Linked DNA regions of Homo sapiens: region 1 is linked to region 2. A link means that fine-mapping ties the variant in region 2 to the expression of a gene that starts in the linked region. Tissue or cell type: whole blood. Region 2 holds a variant in brackets; the other region holds the start of a gene. All regions are shown on one strand. Distances are from middle to middle.

Region 1 (7,656 bases), 25 kb after region 2:
AACCACACACCCTCAAGCAGGCCAACAGGCTATCTAGGTTGTGTGGTCTGTCTCCAGGTGGGTAGAGCTCACTGTCTGTAGGGAGGGGCCTGGTCAATAGGTGTCCTTGGTGGCCACTTTGTCTGGTGGTCCTGCAGACCAGAGATGAGAGACACATAAGTATTTTTCAAGCTGGGTTCTCTGGAGATGCCAGCAGGTGTGTGCTCCTATGCAAAGGGTTCAGGTAAGTTTGGAAAGTGCTGTCCAAGCCCTGCAAAGCCAGCTTGTAGGAAGACTGAGTGTTCTCTGCTGGCAGAGATGGACATTTGGGAGTGGGGTGGCCAAAGGGAAGAGAATGCCTGCAGGAGAGATGCCAGGACTCATACTCAAGGTACTCAGGGATAACGGAGAAGACACCTATGGAAAACCCTGTGATCACAGAGCAGGAAGAGGAACTCATTTGCAGAACATCTCTACTCTGCTTGAAGTTTATATATTGACAAAGATTCTTTGCTTGGCCAAACTTTAGTCAGGCTCCCAAACCTTCTCCTAGACCCTCTTTGCACTTCCATGTAAAATCCAGTTTTAGCAAAGACCCTGTTAAGACAGTTTAGCAAGAACCCTCCATCTTGTATATCTGATCATCTTCAATATCTGATTAGGTTTATCATCCCCCACCCTCCCCCAGGTGATCTCTGGTCACCTGGCCTGTCTAAAGCAAGAATTCTGTTAGGTTGGTGTTGTGAGTGCCACAAAGTCAGAAATAATCAGGTTCATGCACATGTGTGTCTTTCTACAACGTCAGGCTTTTATTGATGCTATTTCAGTCATAAAAGCCACAAGCCACATGGGGTTCTCAAGGAGGCAAATTCTCCTTAGTTTTCCCCATTCACTTGGTAATAAGAGCTGTGGGCATACAGGCTCAAGTCACTCCACAAGTCAGTCAATACTGCCAACCATACATGGTAGTATACTTAATCAATATATAAATGTTATAGATTACACATTCCACATCAAAGTACATTTAACATCAAGAGAAAAGGGGATAGGGAAGGAGCGGTTAACAATATAGTCCAAGGAGAGTGACTTGGACAAGGGGAGTCTCCTGGCCTGATCCAAACAGTCCTCAGTGTCTTGCAAGGAAGAGTCTTTGATGTGGGCAGAGTGTGGGCAAGATGGGGTCTATCCAGACGGTCATCTCCAGTTGCTGAAGTCCTGCTCTTTTTATGGCTACAGAATCCTCTGGTGAGGACTGATAGCAAAGAGTGTGCCTGTTTATGTCTTTATCTGGTGGGGTGTAGTCTTTATTGATTAGGCGAACATCTGGTTCCTGTTGGCATGAGGCTTTTTCAAATGTAAAATGGACCCTTTTTCTAAGATGGAGTTACTTATGTCAAGGGTGCTCCATACAACCTGTTTAGCCAGAATCCCCCTCAGCCCTGATGTTTCCCTTATTAAGTTTCTATCCGCTGACCCCCACCCTGCTCCTTAGCAACGAATTCCCACTTGCCCATGCTGTAATTGGAGTTGAGCTCAATCTCTCTCTCCCTGCAACTGCAAAATCTCATAGCAGAGGTCCCTACACCTATGGTAATGGTCCTGAATAAAGTCTTCCTTACGATGCTTTAACTCATGTCATTAAATAATTTTTTCCTTTAGCAGTGTCCACCGAGTTTACTCTCCCAATTCTTGGCAGTGTTATTATCCTAGCCTGACAGGAAGAATCAGGACTCAAGAAGCTGAAGACTCGCCTGATACTCAGTGCTCACTAAGTAGTGGGGCTCAGCTCCCTGTGATTTGGGATCCAGCCTCCTGCCCCTACAGCCCACGTGCCCTTACACCCTCAAGCAACACCCAGAGCTGGGGTCAGAGGCGAGCTTGCACAATTGCTTCTGCCCTGCGCTGGGACCAGGGCGGCCTGTGGTCTGCAACAGAGAAGCTCCCCCACCTGCCTTCGCCTTCACTCTGGCAAGCCCTGGCAACACCATGAGATCCCAGGGCTCTGGTCCCTTACAGACTGGGCCTGGCAGAGGCACGGGGAGGAAGGTGGGCCAGCAGGGTGTACCGCTGGGCCTACTCGCAGACGTGCGTTTGCTTTGTTGTACCAGGACTACCCCAGGGACCCTTCTCCAGGGCTGTGAGAGTGAGAACAAGAGAACACAGGAGTTCACACCTCTCCGGTCCAGATGCTTTGAGAGCATGATGGAAGCAACAGGCCCTCTCCATAGAAGGGCACGCACACAACCCATAAGCTCGCACAGTTTCCAGGTTTACGCACCAACCACACCACTACAGCGCCCTGCAAGCAGGCCAGGTCTCAAAGGAGCGTGCATGGGAATCACCCAACATGCTGGCTAAAAAGGCGGATCCCAGGCCCCACCGAGGAGATTATCATTCAGTAGGTCTCGGTGGAGGCCTTAGAGCCTGCGTTTTTAACCAGCGCCTCCGACGATTTGGGCGCTGAGGCTCAGCGGAACCCACCTTGAGAAACCCGACTCTGGGCCTAAGAGAGCCCCCCAACACACACACCCCCATGCTCCAAACTTTCCCCATCTCGCCCGACGCACCGGGCGCGCGGTGGTGGAAGCGTCGGGGAGCCCGGTGGGGACCGAGAGCGACGGCCCATGGGGCCTGCCTGTTCCCCTCGCCCCCGCGCCACGGCCCCGGGAAGCGCAGCACTGCCGCCCGCAGGAGGCGCGACTGCCGAGAGGACGCAGGCAGGGGGCGCCTGGTGGTGGTCCCCAGCCCGGAGCCGCGGGGCGGGAAGGAGCGGGAGCCCGAGAAGAGGGAGGCGCGCGACGCCGCGGAGCTCCGGCGCGGAGGCGGGGGGCGGGGCGGGCCGAGCCGGGCCGGGGCGGGGCCGGCGGGCGGGCCGGCGGCGAGCGCCCGGGGAGCGCGCCCGGGTAGCCAAGAGGGAGGAGCGCGGGGAGCGCCGACAGCCGCCCGCCCGCCCGCCCCCGCGACGCCCGCGCGCAACAGTTCCCCCAAAGTTGCAGCCCGGGAGGCGAGCGCGCACGGGCGGCCGAGGGGCGGGCGGTTGGCGGGGACGCGGCCTCGCGGCCCAGAGCGGAGAGTCCCGGCGGGCGGCGGCGGCATGGGCACCCGGCAGACCAAGGGCAGCCTGGCGGAGAGAGCCAGCCCCGGCGCCGCGCCGGGCCCCCGACGCGAACGGCCGGACTTCTGGGCGTCGCTGCTGCTGCGCGCCGGGGACAAGGCGGGGCGCGCGGGCGCGGGGATGCCCCCCTACCACCGGCGAGTCGGCATGGTCCAGGAGCTGCTGCGGATGGTGCGCCAGGGCCGGCGGGAGGAGGCGGGGACGCTGCTGCAGCACCTGCGCCAGGTGAGCGCGGGGAGGGGGCGCGGGGGGCGCGCCGGGCCAGGGGGCGTGCTGGGCCGGGGGGGGCGCCCCATCCCTAACCGAGGAAGCCGGGGGCACCGAGGGGCACCGCCCAGGGGCCCCTTCCGCGGGGATGGAGCCCTGTCTGGCAGCAGGTGCCTCGGCGCTTCCGCTGAATGTGGGGCCTCAGGGCAGGGCGGAGGAAGGCTGGCCGGGTGAGGCCCGCCGAAGGGGACCTGTTGGCATAATGTCCCCACTGCTCTCCTCCGCAGGCAGAGAAGGAGGCTGGTCTCCGGGGACAGTCGGTGGGCGGGGAAGCAGGGATGCCTGCCTGATCTGGGCCAGGGCTCTTTTCTTCCTGTCTGCCCACTGGCAGTCACTCCCGGCCGAGGGTCCTCAAGGAATGCGGTTATCAGTTGGACCTGGCTTGGCTTCCCGAGAGCGAGTCCAGGGGCACAGCCCTGGGGCCAATGAGATTCCAGTCCCTAGGTCCTTCACTCGCCTGGGAGGCATCCTGGATTGTAGTTCAAGGAGGAGACTGTTTCCTCTCCCCTGACTAACTTCAGCAGATCCTCAACCATGAGCCCCTGCGGAAAGCGGTAGAGACAGGGGAGCTGGATTTGGTGCCCTGTGTGACCACCTGGCCAGCAGCAACTTCAGGAGACTGCCAGGACTCTGTCCTTAGCCTGTGCCTGTCCCACTGGCTAGGGACAGATGTTGCGGAATTGGCCAGTTCCCTCTGCTTTGGGGCTGCCCTGAGGCTAATGCTATCACTCACCTCTCTGTGGCTTGTTTTCCTTTGTCAGTTTCTTTGGTGGGGAGAGGAGCATGGCCCATGCCATGGATTTTGTTGAGTATAAGACAGGCAGGGGAGTGCAAAGCTGCTCTCCTGCATCACCAAGCAGGTTGTCTTGGCCTGGCTTTGGTGGGTAGACAATCCAGGCCCCATATTCTTGCTAGACTGACCCCATTAGAGGTGGAGTCTACCGTGGATGGCAGAGGGAAAATCTCAGGTGACCTTTCTGGGGTTTTCCAGTCGCTGCTGAAAGAGGCTGTAGGAGCACCTTCTTGGGAGGAGCTTCCAAAATCTAATCAGACCCACATCCCTCTTGGGTTCTGCAGCACTCTTCCCCACCTTTGTATCTGGTGCGCTCTTACCCTAAAGTATGTGTCCCCAAGCTGTGCACTGCACAGGGAGAGGCAAGCAGAGACGAGGGGACTTGGGAAGATGTGGGACTTCTGCTTCTGCCTCTGTTTTCCCCAACAACTTCCAGAATGATGCCCGAGACGCTGCTGGATCCCCATGTGCCTTCTCTGAGTTCAGTCATCAAAGAAAGATGACATTATGCACCACTGAACTTTAGCAGTGTGTATTTCTTTGTCTTTTGAAAATTGGAAGCTGACATATGGCCTTTATAGTAACTCTTTCACTTTTAAACAGAATATTGGGTTTTCCAGACCATGGTATCCTATTTACACACCATACAGTAAGGTTTTCCTGATCACATGCTGTTTCCCCCACCCTGCAATGGGTGCTTTGGGGGATACAGAAGAACAGAGGGAGCTGGCAAGCACTTCTTGGAGGGTGCAAGACCAGAGCGAAGCTTGCATGATGGAGGGCCGCTTGGAGGCCCACGGGAGGAGACTGGACCCAAAGTGGGCAGATACTTTGGGCTCCCCAGTCCCTGTAGGGCTGAGTGTGATTCCACATCCTGGGGACACTGAGCTTCTCCCTGCCTTGAGGGAGAGTAGATAAGCCCCTGCAGCCCCACTGTGGGATCCTTGAAACAAGAAGCATTTCCTCAGACATCTGCACATGGGTCTTATTGGTGTCCTGGTACCCGCCTCAGCTGCAGGACTGGGAGGGCTGATGGGGGGGTGGGAGGGGGCTTATCAGACTTCCCCCTTTTCTGTGAAAGCAGCAGGTCCTCAGGCTCTGGGCTTCTGGGCTCCTGTTGGGCTCCCTTAACCCCTGGCTGGGGATGCAAGGGCCGTGGGCCTGGAGCTGCCCTGTGTGGCCTGGAACGGATGGAGCAGGACCCCTCCCGAAAGTGGTCATGGGCCTTGAGCAGTGTGGGAGTGGAGCACAGGAGTGTTCACTTGCCTATGACAGAGAGGTGGCTTTCTAGGACCCTGAGGCCATTTGGAGGAATGTCCAGCTGGATTTGTGCTGTGCACTGAAGTGGCTCTTTCTCCAAAATTGCATTTTCCTTTCCATTCCAGTTTCCTTCTCTAGTCTGGTGGTGGTGATGTTCAGAAAGGGAATGAGCAGCTAGTGAGAGCCTTGAGAACACACAAGCCTCACAGGGGTCAGACCAGCAAGAACCTCTTCCTCAGCAAGACAGCCAGTAAAGACAGGGGTCTGCAAAGCGTGGGGCACCCTGTTCTGCAGGAATGTCATGCAGGCCTCTGGGGTGGGAGTCAATGAGCAGGCACAGAACCAGGGAGGGGCAGCAGCGAGGACAGTAGCCCTCACCTCCATTCACACAGCATGTTCTCCTGCATTTGATAACTTGGGTTTGGCTGCTGGATTTGTGTATGCCCAGAGCCATATGGCTGGTGGGGACTCGGGAGCCTTTGTTCCTGTGCTTCTTAGCCTCTTTGAGTCCTTGATCTTTTTGAGGCTCTGAAAAAGCTACACACAATCTTCCCAGGCAAATGCACTGACTCACGCAATCTCACAGGCAATTTCGGAGGGTTCACAAAGCCCCTGAAACCCAGCTACAGACTCCAAGCTCAGAATCTCTGCTCCAGTCCAATACCACCCTTCTCCCTGCTGTGACTTGCTCCAGGCTGGGGATCTGGAAACAGGGACCTGACCCGGGTGCATGTGTGGCAGTTCACGGTGGGCTGAAGGATTGTGGCTGCTGGTGCCACTTCTTCTGAATGCCCCTCTTCAGCATCTAAGATTTGGAGGGCGTCTCTCCAGCTTGTCACTTGCTGGAGAGGTATCAGGAGGCCTCATTCAGCACAAATGACCCTGAGCTGTGGCCAGGGGTGCAGGCAGGATGCCAGGCAGCTGCCTTGAAGGAACAGAAAGTAATCCCCTTCCCTTTAAGATAAGTGTAATCTGAGAAGAGTCCAGGGCCAAGGATCAAGTAGGCAGCTCGCCTTCCGGTCCTCAGTCAGCTGTGACCTTGGGCCCAGCAGATAACCTCTCTGAGTTGTGTTTCTTTGTTTCCCAAAGAGGGATCTGGGGTACTGAGCACAGCAAATGCTACAAAGTGAATGAAATGGTGTTGGTGCTGCCATTCAAGACACATTCTCTTGGTGACTGTGAAACAGGAGAATCTGCCTTACTCACTTTGGGTCTGGCCCCAGTAGGGGCAGGGTTGTGGCATCCTTTCTCAGGCATGGCCCAAGAATTTTTTGGATTCCATCTACCTGGCCAGGGTTCAGTCTGGATCAAAAACTCACTGCACATTTAGAAGCATCTGGAGCGAATGCTCGTGGAGATAAAACAAGCCAGCTTTGGATGGGAGAGGCCATTCCTCTGCCCTTTCCTGGCCGCCATCCTTCCAGGCTTTCCCCTTCCCCAGATGTCCTTCCCCTTGGGCTCAGGCCTGCTGTCTTTAAGGAGCCCTGGAGAAGAAATAACCTTCCGCCATTGAGAGAGGGCAAGTGCCAGGCCACCTTGAGGGTGAGCTGTCATCTCTTCACCCCAGCAGTTTCCCTGAGTCCTCAAAATTTTAGACTGAGCTGTCGGCCTGCGTCATGGAGCAGCAGAAAAAGGCGTCTGTTTCCCTGGGATACACCCAGCTGAGGTAGCCCCTGTCTTCGTGTTCACCAGCACCCCAGCTTTCCCATGAGAAGAGGCTGATGGGGTTGGTTTACTCGAAGTGTGGCGCACACCTCTTAAGCAGGGCTGTTCCTATGTTAACTTGTTTGGGCCTCCCAGTGGTATGGCTAGGGCCTGGAATCCTGGTTCCTGCTGCTGTCTGGGGTGGTGAGGCTGGCTTCACTCTGCACCTGGGAACAGGAACCACATCAGCTAATGCCAACAAGAACCACTGAGGCCAGGCGAAATGCTCACACCTGTAATCCCAGTACTTTAGGAGGCTGAGGCAGGCAGATGACTTGAGCTCACCAGTTCAAGACCAGCCTGAGCAACATGGCTGTCTCTACAAATGCAAATACAAAAACTAGCCAAGTGTGGTAGTGTGCACCTGTAGTCCCAGCTACTTGGGAGACTGAGGTAGGAGGATGGCTTGAGCTTGGGAAGCAGAGGTTGCAGTGAGCCGAGATCAAGCCTCTGCACTCCAGCCTGGGCCACAGAGCCAGGACCTAAGAGTTTAACTCACCCCTCAAGTGGAGCTGAGCAATGGACAGACACCTGGAGA
Region 2 (7,656 bases):
GAGAAATCACCTCATACCTGTTAGGATAGCCATTATTGAAAAACAAAACAAAAATCATAAAACGAGGGTTGATGAGGATGTGGAGAAATCGAAGCCCTTGTGCACCATTGGTAAGACTGCGATATGGCCCAGCCACTATAAAAACAGTATGGGCTGGGCACAGTGGCTCAGCCAATAATCCCAGCACTTTGGGAGGCTAAGGCGGGAGGATTGCTTGAGCCCAGAAGTTCAGGACCAGCTTGGACAACACAGTGAGACCCTATCTTTACAAAAAATAAAAAATTAGTCAGACGTGATGGCACACACCTGTAGTCCCAGCTACCTGGGGATCTGAGGTAGGAGGAGGCTTGAGCCTGGGAATTTAAGGCTACATTGAGCTATGATCAAGCCATTGGGCAACAGAGCAAGATCTTGTCTCATAAATAGATAAACAGAGACTCTTCAAAAAATTAAAAATAGAATTATCAAATGATCTAGCATTCCCACTTCTGAGTATATACCCAAAAGAATAGAAAGCAAAGTCTCAATGAAACATTTGTATATCCACATTCATAATAAGATCATTCACAGTAGACAAAAGGCAGAAGCAACCCAAGAGTGCATTAATAGATGAATGGGCAAAGAAAGTGTGGTTCATGCATACAAAGGAATATCATTCAGCCTTAAAAAGGAAAAAAATTCTGACACATACTATAGCATGAATGGACCTTGAAGACATTTGTTGTCAAATAAGCCAGTCACACAAGGACAAATACTGCATGATTCCATTTATATGGAATCTAAAGCAAAAAAAAAAAAAAAACCTCATAGAAGCTGAAAGCTGAAAGCTTGTTACCAGGGCTTGGGGAGGAGAGATGGGGAGCTGATGCTCAATGCATGTGGAGTTTCGGTCACACAAGATGAGAAAGTTCTAAAGTTAACAAGCCTGTACTCTACACTTACAAATTTGTTAAGAGGGTAGATTTCATCTTACATGTTTTTCACCACAATAAAAAAAAGACCGAGGCCAGGCGCGGTGGCTCATGCCTGTAATCCTAGCACTTTGGGAGGCCGAGGCGGGCCGATCATCTGAGGTCAGGAGGTCGAGACCAGCCTGACCAACATGGAGAAACCCCGTCTCTACTAAAAATACAAAATTATCCGGGTGTGGTAGTGCATGCCTGTAATACCAGCTACTCAGGAGGCTGAGGCAGGAGAATCGCTTGAACCTGGGAGGTGGAGGTTGTGGTGAGCCGAGATCGCGCCATTGTACTCCAGCCTGGGTGACAGAGCAAGACTCCGTCTCCAAAAAAAACAAAACCGAGAGAGAGCTGTCCCCTTGCAAGTCTTAAGGCAGCCACACTCTTCCCATCTAAGCCTAACTTCCCTCCCCTGCCATCTGTGGCAACTGCAGCTTCCATTAGGCATCCCTGATAACCAAGAAACTGTTAATTTTTCTTCCTGCCCCCTTCCCCAAAGGAGAGCCAGCCTAGACTGGCCATTCTTACAGGATTCAAGAATGGAGGAAAGTGCTTTTTCCCTCTTTCAAGTTGCCTCTAGTTCATGGTTTATTTTTTCAGTAAGTGTTTGTTGAGTGTCTACTATATGCCAAGCACTGTGGTGAACTTGGGAAACACAATATTGGATAGGACCAGAAGGACCCTGCTCTCAGGGAATTTACTTTCTAATAAACAAACAAGGTGGCCGGGCGCAGTGGCTCATGCCTGTAATCCTAGCACTTTGGGAGGCGAGTGGATTGCCTGAGCTCAGGAGTTTGAGACCAGCCTGGGCAACACGGTGAAACCCCGTCTCTACTAAAATACAAAAATAAAATAAAATAAAATTAGCCAGGTGTAGTGGCGTGTGCCTGTAGTCTCAGCTACTTGGGCAGAGGTTGCAGTGAGCCGAGATCGTGCCACTGCACTCCAGCCTGGGCAACAGAGTGAAACTCTGTCTCCAAAAATAAAATAAAATAAACAAACAAGTTAACTTCGGGAGGTGTCGAGTGCTATGATGCGACTAAACAGAACGATCTGTGAGCATCATGGGCATGTCCTAAAGTTCTCTCTGAAAAGAGGATGACTGCCTCGAGACTTAAAGTGAGAAGAATCAAGCTAGCAGGGATGGCATTCTGGGCAGAGGAAACAGTATGTGCAAAGGTCCTGGAGCAGAAAAGGGCATGCTGTGTCTAAAGAACAGAGAGAAGGCCAGTGTGGCCCCAGCACAGTGAGTGGGAGGGAAGCTGGAGCTGTAGCCGGAACTGGACTGTGCCGGGCTTCATAAACTGAAGTAGAAGCAAAAGCAAAATGTAAATTAATATTGCAAGGGATTGTCCTGAGAGATATTGTCAGCTACTAACATGCAAGTCACTCACTGAAGTATAGTATCCAAGGACATCCTTGGGTTCTCACCCAGGATCTGTAACTTGTTACCTGTGTGACTCTAAGCCAAGGGTTCTCAAACTCAGCTATGCATTTGAATCACCTGGAGGTCTTGTACAATGGGCTCCCGGGCCCCACCCCAGAGTTTCTGATCTGGAAAGGGCCCAGAGTTTGCGTGTCTACCAGGTTCACAGGTGGTGGTGACACTGCTGGTCCTTGGACCACATGTTGAGAACCATGCTCTAATGATCCTCTCCAGCAAGTCAGTGATTCTCTCTGAGCCTTTTTCTTCCGTGAAAGTGCCCTTCTGACCTGATTGATGTGATCATCAGATGAGATAAAATACAAAGCATAAAGCCCTTTTTAAAGAACAAAAAAAGACAGACACACAGAATGATCACCTTAACGGTGTTCACTAAGCTCCCTTCCTGTGTGTTTCCTTCACAGCTGATACAGAATTTCACATATGGCAAGAGCAGCTGACTGCTTGGGAGCAATGCCGGTTTTATTCCATTCACTCTACGTTTATCTAATTCTCTAAACACATAGGAGAACCTCCGGTGCTGAAGAATAGAGAGCTGCCCGCCCCGCCTGGGAGAAACCTTCAGATGCGCCCCCGTTGTTCCCCCGCCGACAGAGGCTTGATGCCGCTTCAAGTGCCCGCAGTTATTTTTGTCAGCCATCCTCTCCTCCCACTCCTCCCAAAGAAAGCATTCAGTGAGTCATCGGGAGACCCGGAGACATCTGACGGTTGCTCAGCTGGTATCCGGCCACTGAGGGGAAGGAGGAGTGTGTTGATGTCCCCTTGGACTCTCCTTGAAGAAACTGCATAGATTCACAGACTCCTGGAAAATCAGAATCCAGAATGTGCACATGATACACGTTTGGTGTGTGTGTTTATTTGTATTCACTCACGGATTCAACAAATATTTGTTGATTACCTGCCATCTACCAGACTTGTTTTAGACTCTGAGGACACAGCATGTACAAAACAACAAAGCCCCTCTCATGGGGTTTATGTGCGTAATAGTCACTCATAGAGC[A/G]TGTACTGGAAGTCGTGAGGTGTGTAGTCTGGCAGGGAAGAGAGTCAGCCATCAGATGGATGTGGTGAGTGTTATGGCACTGAGATGGAGAGATATACTGGGTGGCGTACGGAGAAGCACAGGAGGAAGAGGCTTCCAAATGGGCACCCTGATAAGTGGACGTTAAATGGCGTGTGGCATCTTCCAGGTTCACTAAGGGAGGCTACTCTCCATTGAGTTAACCTCAAAAATGCATACATGGAAGTACCCTAACACGTGACCCCTTTCTCCTTTCCAATTTCTTTCTATGCTGGCCCCACCCCTAGGTCTTGGAGGTACATAGCTTGTTGTCCGGTTTCAGTTTCACAGCTGGAGAGAAACTTTGCCTCAGGAAGAAGTATACTGGGAGCCTCACCCATACTGGGTTTAGATGAGATTTAGATGAGATTTTGAACTTAAAAGTTGGTGCTGCAAAGAGTTAAGATTTGGAAACTGTTGGGATGGGGTGAATGTATTTTGCATGTGAGAATGACATTCATTTTTAGCCAGAGGGAGAAGCGTTATGGGCTGAATTATGGTCCCCCCAAAATTATTCATGAAGTCTAATACCCACAACCTCAGAATAGGACCTTATTTGGAGATAGGTCTCTAAAGAAGTAATTAAGTCAAAATGAGGTCATTAGGGTGGACCCCAGTCCAGTAGGATTGGTGTCCTTATGAGGCGATTAGGGCACAGACACCCACAGAGACACCCACAAAGGGATGACCACGCGAAGAGGCAGGGAGAAGATGCCATCCACAAGCAAGGAGAGAGGCCTCTGAAGGAACCAACCCTGCCAACACCTTGATCTTGAACTTCTAGCCTCTGGAATTGGGAAGAAACAACTTTCTGTTGTTTAAACCACCCGGGCTGTGGTATTTTGTTATGACAGCTCTAGCAAACGAATACAGAGGTGTTTGTGAAAAGGAAGCAGCACAGTGTGGTAGGGTAGGGTAGTACACTCTGGGCACCTCCAAACAGTTCTGCAGACTTGGAGTGTAGGGTGCAAGGGATGGAGGGGAGGCTGGAGAGATGGGCAGGGGCCCGGCCATGAAGGGCCTCTGGTGACAAGGATTTGGGACTTAATTCAGCATTCAAGGTATTGAGGTATTGAGGATGAAGTCAGGCTGGGCGCGGTGGCTTGCGCCTGTAATCCTAGCACTTTGGGAGGCCAAGGCAGGCAGATCACGAGGTCAGGAGTTCAAGACCAGCCTGGTCAACATGGCGAAACCCTGTCTCTACTAAAAATACAAAAATTAGCCCGGCGTGGTGGCAGGCACCTGTAATTCCAGCCATTCGGGAGGCTGAGGGAGGAGAATCACTTGAACCCGGGAGGCAGAGGTTGCAGTCAGCCAAGATTGTGCCATTGCACTCCAGCCTGGGCAACAAAAGCAGGACTCCATCTCAAAAAAAAATAAATAAATAAATGAAAGGAGGAAGTCGGATACAATGCTGTATTGCAGATATAGTACAATGCTGTATTATAGGAAGATCATTTAAAGGAGGCATGGAGGAGCTAAAAGGAGAGAAGAACTGGAGGCAAGAAGATAGGGGTCACACTAACAGACATAAAACATGGGTCAGACACCGTGGCTCACGCCTGTAATCCCAACACTTTGGGAGGCTGAGGTGGGTGGATCACGAGGTCAGGAGTTCGAGACCAGCCTGGCCAACATGGTGAAACCCTGTCTCTACTAAAAATACAAAAATTAGCCAGGCGTGGTGGCACGCGCCTGTAATCCCAGCTACTCGGGAGGCTGGGGCAGGAGAACCACTTGAACCCAAGAGGCGGAAGTTGCAGCGAGCCAAGATCGAGCCACTGCACTCCAGCCTGGGTGACAGAAAAAGACTTTGTCTTGGGAAAACAAAACAAAACAAAACAAAAACATGATTCTGGCTGGGACTAAGGCAAGGGTAGCCAGGATGGAGAGGTAGGGTCCCAGAGAGATGCTGGGAATGTAGAATCCACAAGAGTTGGCTGCAAGTTGGATGAGGAGCAGGGAAATGCTGAGGGAAAGAGAAGCGAGAGGAGCAAGGGTGTGGGGAGGAAGCGACCTCCACCCTGCACGTGTTGAGTTTGAGATGTGATTGTGCTCTGACTCCACACGCGCAATTGAGAACCAGCTCCTGCAGAAGGGAACTGAACCAAAGGCCTCGGAGGAGACTGCCTGGGAAGAGAAGCTGGACAAGGGCAAATCAGTGGACCAGTGTGCCATGTGGTATACTGAAGGAAGGGGGGATTCTCTGAGGAAGATGGAGAGGTGATGTCAAAGAGGAAGAAGGCAAACTAGGAAGGAGCAGGGTCTTGACCCCTACTGCATTGAGAAACAAGAGGGTGGAGAAAGCCCCAGACAGGAAAGAGCAGTCGCAATGGCAAATGCGGCAGACAGGTCAACATGAGGACTTGGAACTTGCCCAAGAGAGTGGCTCAAGAGAGTGAACCGAGCCCCTGCCAATAAATAAATATTTGTAGAATGAAGGAAAAACCCCTGGAAGGTGAGACTATGAGCACCATCTCCAAAGAGCGATCACTGCCGTATCATTTTATGCCTTTCCAATCTCGTACCGGGAATCCCCATCTTCCAAGTTGTCACTGAAATGACTAAAAGAGTATGAAAGTAGAGGGTGATTACACTAGACATAGAAGAAAACGGCCGCTCAGGCCTCAGAGACCTCAAGGAACTTCTGCGAGGCATGGCGGAAATAAGAGTAGATTCAAAGAAGTGCCTGCAGACCTTTAAGTCACCATGTGCAGAGAAAAGTGGAAAACCTCAGCAAAACCCCAGCAACACCCTGAGCATTGGCAAAAGGCATATTCTGTTACACACATCACAAGCAGGGGCATGCCAACCACTGTGCCAGGTACGGAGGCACTGCAAGAACCAAGACAGATGGAACCTGGCCCTCAGGGAGCTTAATTCTGGTAGGAAAGGTGGACAGTAAACAAGTAAACAAATCAAGCAAGGAATCACAGAGTATGATAAGTATGATGAATGAAATAAATGGCCGGGCGCAGTGGCTCACGCCTGTAATCCCAGCACTTTGGGAGGCCGAGGTGTGTGGATCACCTGAGGTCCAGAGTTTGAGACCAGCCTGACCAACATGGAGAAACCCCTTCTCTACTAAAAATACAAAATTAGCCAGGCGTGGTGGCGCATGCCTATAATCCCAGCTACTTGGGAAGCTGAGGCAGGAGAATGGCTTGAACCCGGGAGGCGGAGGTTGCTATGAGCCAAGATCATGCCATTGCACTCCAGCCTGGGCAACAAGAGTGAAACTCCATCTCAAAAAAAAAAAAAAGAAAGAAAGAAACTAGGATGGGCCAGGCACGGTGGCTCACGCCTGTAATCCCAACACTTTGGGAGGCTGAGGCGGGTGGATCACCTGAGGTCAGGAGTTCAAGACCAGCCTGGCCAACATAGTGAAATCCCGTCTCTACTAAGAATATACAAAAATTAGCTGGACATGGTGGCACGCATCTGTAATCCCAGCTACTTGGGAGGCTGAGAGAGAAGGACCCCTTGAATCCATGAGGCGGGAGTTGCAGTGAGCTGAGATTGCGCCACTGCACTCCAGCCTGGGTGACACAGCAAGACTCCATCTCAAAAAAATAAAAGAAACAAACTAGCATTAGCCAATAGAAACTGGACAGGGACTAGTTAAGATGTATGGCAGTCAGTTTATCTTGCTGAAATTTTTCCAGCTTGAGTTACATGACAGATCTCATGTATCATCATGTTGTAGGATCTATCACATTTTGCACAGTTAGAATTTTCTCCTGTCACGTTTTGGACAGCCACCACTGCCAATGTAGGAGTGGTGGGGGAGGGGTTGTTGGAAAAAAATTCTGTAATTTGCTCCCTGAGGCTACACTTTGATTCCCTGGGTCAAAGTAGCAGGGATGGGAGGCAAAGATGAGCCAGCAGAAGTGGAAGGGGACAGTGACCATATCCCAATGTCACAGAGTACATGCAAGAAACAATGTACAGCCATTTTTTATGCCCATTCCTTATTTCTCCTGATAATACAGCCTGCTCCAGGCACAGCAGGGATGCTCAACCCAAGTCCCTCCCAGAATTTTCAAGTGAGAGACAGGGAGGACGCTTCCTCTTTGGCCCAGCAGCTGTGAGGATATGAGCTTAGAGATCATGATGCTTTTTCCCTGCTGTGTGAAGAGGCTTAACTGCACAAAGAGAGAATGAAGCCAACACACCCAGAGCAGTGGGGATAAGAG

What was found. PIP is the estimated chance that this variant, and not a neighbour inherited with it, causes the effect.
Region 1: LRRC75A starts here. The variant in region 2 is fine-mapped to the expression of LRRC75A in whole blood (TOPMed, PIP 0.96).

The regions. Positions count from the first base shown.
Region 1 is chr17:16,487,408-16,495,063 of GRCh38, reverse strand. LRRC75A (leucine rich repeat containing 75A) reads left to right here and starts at 2,871. Exons shown (of 4, transcript NM_001113567.3): 1 at 2,871-3,319. The coding sequence starts at 3,074. LOC124903936 (a long non-coding RNA gene) reads right to left here. Exons shown (of 3, transcript XR_007065641.1): 2 at 7,618-7,656. RefSeq lists silencers at 2,619-2,958, 3,049-3,098, 3,209-3,268 and an enhancer at 7,234-7,656.
Region 2 is chr17:16,512,190-16,519,845 of GRCh38, reverse strand. No RefSeq gene overlaps it. Among named protein-coding and RNA genes, the nearest start is that of LRRC75A, 24 kb to the right of the region's middle. RefSeq lists an enhancer at 2,363-3,562. The variant A/G (reference allele first, on the strand shown) is at 3,404.